2 linked regions of the Homo sapiens genome follow. The protein of the gene in region 1 interacts with the protein of each later gene in a pairwise test. Each region holds a gene or a part of one and is shown on either strand. Other genes may lie near its edges.

Evidence for each region.
Region 2: the proteins of ART4 (region 1) and UPF2 interact in a two-hybrid assay, tested with the Homo sapiens proteins (one large-scale study listed by BioGRID).

The regions. Positions count from the first base shown.
Region 1 is NC_000012.12:14,840,514-14,844,843, reverse strand, and holds the start of ART4 (ecto-ADP-ribosyltransferase 4 isoform 1 precursor), read left to right. Parts: upstream 1-1,317; 5' UTR 1,318-1,730; coding exon 1,731-1,874; intron 1,875-3,690; coding exon 3,691-4,330.
Region 2 is NC_000010.11:12,032,810-12,036,630, reverse strand, and holds part of UPF2 (regulator of nonsense transcripts 2), read left to right. Parts: intron 1-1,189; 5' UTR 1,190-1,207; coding exon 1,208-1,572; intron 1,573-3,821. UniProt on the Homo sapiens protein: Involved in nonsense-mediated decay (NMD) of mRNAs containing premature stop codons by associating with the nuclear exon junction complex (EJC).

The sequences.
Region 1 (4,330 bases):
TAGTTGAAAACAAGCTAAATATAAGATATTTATTAAATAAACTTTGGTGCAAATAATAATAATTGGTTTTATTTGTTGGAAAATTTCTAGGTGCCAGATGCTATTCTAAGGAGTATGAATGTATCAACACTAAAATGAAGTTGGTACTATTATTATCTCCATTCAACACATGAGGAAACAGAGAGACAGAGAGGTTAAGTAGCTTGTCCAAGATCACACATTTAGGAAGAAGGAGCACCAGGAATTGAACTGAGATGTCTTATTCAAGAGTCCATGTTCTAGTCACTTATCAATCTTCTTCTGAGACTGTCCATGGATCCACCCATGCTGTCCCATTGTGTGGCAGCACCTATGTAATGGAATATAGTGAACCTTTGTTTAAAAAATGTTTCAATAGGTATTAAATTATATAGGGACATGCTTACATTAAAATATTAAGGGGAATAAACAGTATGCAAAACTGCATACTATATTATTTCAGTTCTAGAAACCTGTGTGTGTGTATGTCTAAGGGTGTATAAATCAAAATCCAGACCTAATTAGTGGCTGTCTCCAAGTGACGGGTTATGTGTCATTTTTTTCTCCTTTGTGCTTTCTAAATATTCTGAATATTTGTTAATGAGACAGAACTGCTGTGATCATCAGAAAATTTAGATTAAAAAAATTCAGGGTGCCAAAAAATTCTAGAATACTTAAGAACAGCACTTAGTTTACCTTAAAAGTTAAAAATTGAATCCAGAAGTAAATATTTGCAAGAAAAACAATTATCAAGGATTGCTAACTTTTAGTTTCTTAAATAATGAATCCAGAAGTATAAATACAAAATATTTGCAAGAAAATATAATTATATCAAGGGTTGGGAGGAGAAGAAGGATGTTTAGACTAGAAAGGGTAGTACCTACCTAAAAGAGAGTGCTTAATAGAACTGTGCTGGATTAAGTTTGCACAGTGGACCCTATTTTAACTTATGTCAGCTCTACATAAGCAGTCTCCTGACAGTCGTCATTAGGATTCACTGGAGACTGGAACTGTGCGGACAGAGGGCCTGTCTTCAGAAGAGAAAATGGGGGAAGAGCTTTGAACCCAGAGGTACAATCTCTGGATTGGAGAGTTTCAAAGGTGCCAGGGAAAAGCAGTACAAAGAGCCTTCTTTTTGACAATAACTCTAAAACACACTTTGCTCTGTGAACGCCCGTCCTGGGCAGGGCCTATCAGCAGGGCCAGATGAGCCTATAGACACCCAGGGTGGCGCGTTCCCAGCCGCCCTGCGCATGCCAATCTTATCAGTTTTGATGGAAGCCTGGGGCTCCAGATAATGCTACTTGGCCCCAAACGCTGGACAGAGCATGCTTTTTCCTGTTTGGCTGGGAAAGGGAAGGCTGAACTGCTGAGTCTGACACTTAACAGGACTTCGGCATTCCCCTGAATACAGACTAGATCAGAGATTTTATTTTTTTAATTGAAAAGTAACTTGGGTTCTCTTTAGAAACCCTTATTTGGTGTGCGCATCTGGCTATTTCACAGAGATTTCAGTTTTGCAAAGAAGTCGGAGTTGATTTCTTCCCTCAGACAAGCTATTGGTTGTTGGTGGGCAACAGAAGTTGCTCAGCATAGACAGGGGAAAAAACGGTTACGGATGAGACTGAAAGAAAACCTCAAAGGAGAACTCTGAGAATTCATCTCAGGATGAAGCTGCAAGGGCAAAGGAGAAGTACTTGTGACACAAGCAAATGGGTCCATTGATCAACAGATGCAAGAAGATTCTTCTCCCAACTACTGTACCTCCTGCAACGATGAGAATCTGGCTCCTTGGAGGCCTGCTGCCATTCCTGCTGCTCCTCTCTGGCCTGCAGAGACCCACAGAGGGTTCTGAGGTAGGGGGACAATTGAGGGGGTGATCTCTTTATGATCAGTGCTCCAACAGAGCATTCACCCGGCCACAGCCTTTAAATGGCCGAAAACTTAGGCATTCAGAATCTAGTTTCATTCAGACATTTTAACAAATCATGTTAGTAAAGAGTGTTGAAAACAGTTATGAAAAATTGTAGAATCCTTCACTGTTAGTACACTTGACATTATGGATGCTAGTGGCATAAAGTTATTTTCCTGATCCACTGTAAAAATTAAGTAAAATATTGCTTCCATAGTACAAACAATGCAAAATAAACCAAGTCTATTTGGCTTTAAACTCTAGCATACAGATTGACTTAAGTTTTAAGTGAATATTTTAATAAAGATCTGTGTAACAAAAAACAACCTAATGTTAAGAGATGACAGAGTACATATTTGAGATCTAGTAACATATTAACAAAGTTTCAGAGTTCATCATGACAGTTGACAGAACATTGTATTATTGGTTTGGTTTGGCTCGGCTTGGCTTAAATAGATACCGTAGACCTATTTTAATACCTGATGTGAAGAGTTATTGGTTAAAATCATTTAATCAGTCTTAAAAATGTGTTCTAGTTCACAAACAACTAGCTGACGTCTCATCATAAATAACATAGTAAAAATACCAAATGGGATGTTCTTTAAGTTCCAGTTCCAACATCCTTAACATTGACTGGATGGAATGTGATCCTTTAACATGTCCCTCAATGAGTACTGTTTATTACGAAAACATCATTTCTTTGCCAAGAAAGGAATGTTTTAGAATTTATATAATTTATATATGGCTCTAAATGATAGTCTGATGATATTTTGTGGACTTCTATTCAAATCTGTCATTTCAGTTTAGCATGCACTAGACGTGAATAAACAACATTCTGTTGGCTACCCATTAGAAAGGAATGTCCTTTTCCAGGAGGGGAGGGACTTTCCTAGGCACATTCCTGACCACTGTCCAACCCTTGACTCACTCTGCTGTCCCTGAGGGGGACAAATGTACTTGACTGGTAACATGGGAAAAAACAACTGGGTGTGCTGAGTTTGGCTCTGCTCTTCATCCTCCTGGGAGTTAGCCTGATGGCAAAGGGCATCAGTTCTCTGTTTCCCCATGACAAGAATCTTACCTGGGCAGGCCCCAGTTCAGTACTGCCTGCAAACGAGTCGGTCCCATTCTGGAATTTGCTCTTAACAAGCCACTTGCTATCAGACCTAACAATGTGACTGCTGTAGCGTGCCCTTTTTCAGTAAGAAAACAGATATTTTGGCTTTCATATTTTGCTATTTTTATTATCAATGTTTTCAGAACCCAGGTAGACAAGAAGGTTGTTACTTATGAGAGCCCCCTTAGTACTATTCATAGCTTAAGGATAAAGTTCAAGGATTTAATTTGGTTTTGGGCATTCATAAAAGTGATATTTTTGAAAACACCAGTGAGAGACTAGAAAGAGGGGGGAAAGTAGAGGAAACAGAAAGTGTAATTAAACTACAAGATTTTGAATTTTTTCTTCAAAGTACTTACTATGCAAACATGCTGTGATTTTAGTGATATTAAAAGAGTTACTTCCTCTCTGGGGAGATGAGTTTTTCAAGCTTTCAGTAATTTATTTATCAAACCAAATTCAATCTCTAGCACAGGTCATTGATGCAGTAAGGATTGGAACAGTGTAATGATTTTCAGTGTAACTTACTTCAGTAAATATTGGTTTCCAGGAGAAGACTTACCCTTATAGAGTACAGCAAATCTGCAACCACATTCACCATCTGATTTGAAAAATTAAACTCAAGATTTTTCTTTTTTTACAGGTTGCAATTAAAATCGACTTCGACTTCGCACCAGGTTCTTTTGATGATCAGTACCAAGGCTGTAGCAAACAGGTTATGGAGAAACTAACTCAAGGGGATTATTTCACAAAAGACATAGAAGCCCAGAAGAATTATTTTAGGATGTGGCAAAAAGCCCACTTAGCCTGGCTTAACCAAGGAAAAGTTCTACCCCAGAACATGACTACCACACACGCTGTGGCTATTTTGTTTTATACATTGAACAGCAATGTTCATTCTGACTTTACTAGAGCCATGGCCTCTGTTGCCAGGACTCCACAGCAGTATGAACGTTCATTCCACTTCAAATATTTACACTACTACCTCACCTCAGCAATCCAGCTGCTGAGGAAAGACAGCATCATGGAGAATGGCACTCTGTGCTATGAGGTGCATTATAGGACGAAGGATGTCCACTTTAATGCCTACACAGGGGCCACCATTCGATTTGGCCAATTCCTCTCCACATCCCTCCTGAAAGAAGAGGCACAGGAGTTTGGGAACCAGACACTATTTACCATATTCACCTGCCTGGGTGCACCTGTACAGTACTTCTCCCTCAAGAAGGAAGTCTTGATCCCTCCCTATGAGCTGTTTAAAGTTATAAATATGAGCTACCACC
Region 2 (3,821 bases), on another chromosome or scaffold:
AAAGAAAAATTCAGAATTTTCCTGCAAAGTATAGTTTTTTGTTCCACAGTTACTTTCAGTTAACTATAAGCCTGTACTATAGGCCAATGCTATCCAATAGAACTTTCTGTGGAAATGTTCTGTATCTGCCCTGCTGTGTATGGAAGCCATTAGTCACATGTGGAATTGAGCACTTGAAATACAGATACTGACTGAAGAACTGAATTTCAAATTTTATTTAATTTTAATTAATTTACATTTAAGTAACCACATATGACTAGTGCAGCAGTTTTTGGGTGATAATTTTTTCTCCGACGGATATTTAGCAATGTCTGGAGTTATATTTGGTTGTCAAAATGAGGGAGGAGCTACTTGTATGCACTGCATAGCAGGCAGGGACACTGCTAAACCTCCTACAGAGCACATGGTGACCCCTTTCCTCTAAAACCAAAGGAGTATTTTGCCCAAACTGTCAATGGTGCTGAACTTTAGAAACCCTGGGCTAATAGCTACTCTGTATTGACAGATATAGCACAGAACATACGGATTTTAGGTTCATGTTTATTTATAAATTAACTTTAACTAATACAGATGAAGAAGTTAAAAGTCTAGTTTAATTTGAGATAGTTAACAGTTTTTGTATCTGAAAGTTTGATGATAAGGTTAGAGCAATGAAGTGAGATTCGTGAGTCCGCTGTTCTGTTTTGTCCGTTGACATATAGGAGGCAAGGGCTTGTTTTTGTTTCCTTTCTCAGCTGAAATACTGACATTGAATATTATATGAAATAGTGAACTGCCATCTTTCATGGTTGTCAAATGCTAGGGTTAAAGCTGACTCAAAATGTTCACAGATATATTCTGAAGTATTTACAATTAAATGACATATTGTTTTGGAGTTGATAGTGGCTGAATCTGAGTGATGGGTACGTGGAGGTTCCTTATATTATGCTCTCTACTTTTGTCTGGGCTTGGATTTTTCCTTATAAAAAGTAAAAAACAAGTACTTAGACATAGGCCTAACTAATAATGATAGGATGTGGAATGTGATGAATAACTTATTTTGTAACAGAAATAGTATTCATTTTACCTGCCTTTATTTACTCTTTTACAATTGCCAAGTTGCATTAATATGTTCTGTTTAAAAAAATAGTGTGATATCATTTTAAAAAGTCACTGCATCTATGGTACTGACATTCTTTCCCTCTTACAGATTGTCCTGGGTCACATAATGCCAGCTGAGCGTAAAAAGCCAGCAAGTATGGAAGAAAAAGACTCTTTACCAAACAACAAGGAAAAAGACTGCAGTGAAAGGCGGACAGTGAGCAGCAAGGAGAGGCCAAAAGACGATATCAAGCTCACTGCCAAGAAGGAGGTCAGCAAGGCCCCTGAAGACAAGAAGAAGAGACTGGAAGATGATAAGAGAAAAAAGGAAGACAAGGAACGCAAGAAAAAAGACGAAGAAAAGGTGAAGGCAGAGGAAGAATCAAAGAAAAAAGAAGAGGAAGAAAAAAAGAAACATCAAGAGGAAGAGAGAAAGAAGCAAGAAGAGCAGGCCAAACGTCAGCAAGAAGAAGAAGCAGCTGCTCAGATGAAGTAAGGCAGTTGATTGTATTTATTGATGTGAGGGAATGGGAAGATTGGAATATTTTGGGAAAAAAACATTATTTGAAATATAGCGTCCTGGGTGCAGCTCTTTAAGAATTGGGAGTATCTTAATTTACTTGTTCTGTTAGTTTCACTGACTAGAGGCATGCTTAAGGTGTGTTAATTATTCAAATTAAATAATAGTAACAATCTTTAATGAGTACTGTTTTGAGGTCCTGGGTAATCTTTTATTTATTTATTTTGAGACGGAATTTTGCTCAGTCGCCCAGACTGGAGTGCAATGGCACCATCTTGGCTCACTCCAACCTCCGCCTCCTGGGTTCAAGTGATTCTCCTGCCTCAGCCTCCCGAGTAGCTGGGATTACAGGCACCTGCCATCATGCCCAGCTAATTTTTGTATTTTTGTAGAGATGGCGTTTCACCATGTTGGCCAGGCTGGTCTTGAGCTCCTGACCTCAGGTGATCCGCCCGCCTCAGCCTCCCCAAAGTGCTGGGATTACAGGTGTGAGCCACCGCACCTGGCTGTTTATTTTTTAAAGACTTTTTTTCATACAAAATTAGTCAGGCATGGTGGCGCATGCCTGTAGTCCCAGTTACTCAGGAGGCTGAAGTAGGAGAATCGCTTGAACCTAGCAGGTGGAGGTTGCAGTGAGCCAAGACTGTGCCACTGCACTCCTGCCTGGGCAACAGAGCAAGACTGCATCTCAAAAAAAAAAAAATAAAATAATAAAATAAAAACTTTTTTTCATGGTATGATAGTACTCCATTTTTTAAAAAAATTGAAAACCTTCAGTTGGCTGATGTTTGTTGAGTTCTTATCTATCAGGCATTGTACAGAATATATTAGCATCTATCCTTAGGACAATCCCAGTGAAGTAAGTTTTATGATCCTCATTTTACAGATTAACAAAATGAAGCTTAAGGAGGGTAAGTTGCTTAAGGTCACAGCAAATAGTAGAGCTGTTGGGATTTAAAGCTAGGTTGGTCTGACTTTAAAACTTTTGACTATTCATTAAGCACAATTCCACAATGCCTTCCATTCTTATCTTTATTTAAATCTGTTTTTAAGCTTGTAAACCTGTGCAAGTAAATAATAAACTAGTGAAAAATGTAGTTCTTACAGGAGAAACACCAGAGATGCATCAGCAGTGACTACTGTTGAATAGCATAAGCTCTTCTCTAAATATAAAACTTATTAGGCCGGGCATGGTGGTTCACGCCTGTAAACCCAGCCCTTTGGGAGGCTGAGGCAGGAGGATTGGTTGAGCTCAGGAGTTCAAGACCAGCCTGGTCAATATAGCGAGACCCTGTCTCTATGAAGAAAAATAAGGGAAAGCATAAATATATAACTTATTTATTTTTAACTAAAAAAGTTTTTTTTTAATTTAAGAGGGCAACTTACCCTTTTTAAGCCTCATTTTATTGATCTCTAAAATGAGGCTTGTAGAATTTAACTTCATTGGTACTGTCTTAAGGATATTTGCTAATATATTTTGTACAGTGCCTGGTAACATAACAAGAGCTCAACAAACTCCAGCCAGGCTGGAGTGTAGTGGTACAATGCCAGCTCACTGCAGCCTTGACCTCCCAGGCTCAAGCCATCCTCCCACCACATCCTCCTTGGTAGCGGGAACTACAGGTGCGTGCCACCACACCTGGGTATTTTTGTACTTTTTGTAGATAGAGTTTCACCATGTTGCCCAGGCTAGTCTTGAACTCTTGGACTCAAGAAGTCCTCCTGCCTCAGCCTCCCAAAGTGTTGAGATTACAGGCATGAGCCACCATGCCTGGCCTAAAAAATCGTTTTTGGAAACGGTGTCTTTCTTTTTTTTCTAAGTTAGTCTGTAATTGCTGAGCTCAAGCGATCCTCCCACTACAGCCTCCCTAGTAGCTGGGACTACAGATGTACACTACTTTGCGTGGCCAAATATATAATTTAAAAACCTTTTTGCAAGCACGATTTTGTATAGATCTCTAGAACAGCCACCTTTCTTCTCAGAGTTGTTCTTTAGGACTTCTACTTTCTTCCCATTTTTGGGGGGGTGATGGTGGCATTGCTGTTGTTACCCAGGCTGGAGTGCAGTGGCTATTCTCAGGTTCCATCATAACGTACTGCAGTCTCCAACTCCTGTGCTCAAGTGATTCCTCCTGCCTCCTGAGTAGCTGTCATTACAGGCTCGTGCCACCACCCCTGGCCAGGACCTCTTTTAATAAGGAACAGAAGCCTTAGGTCTGCA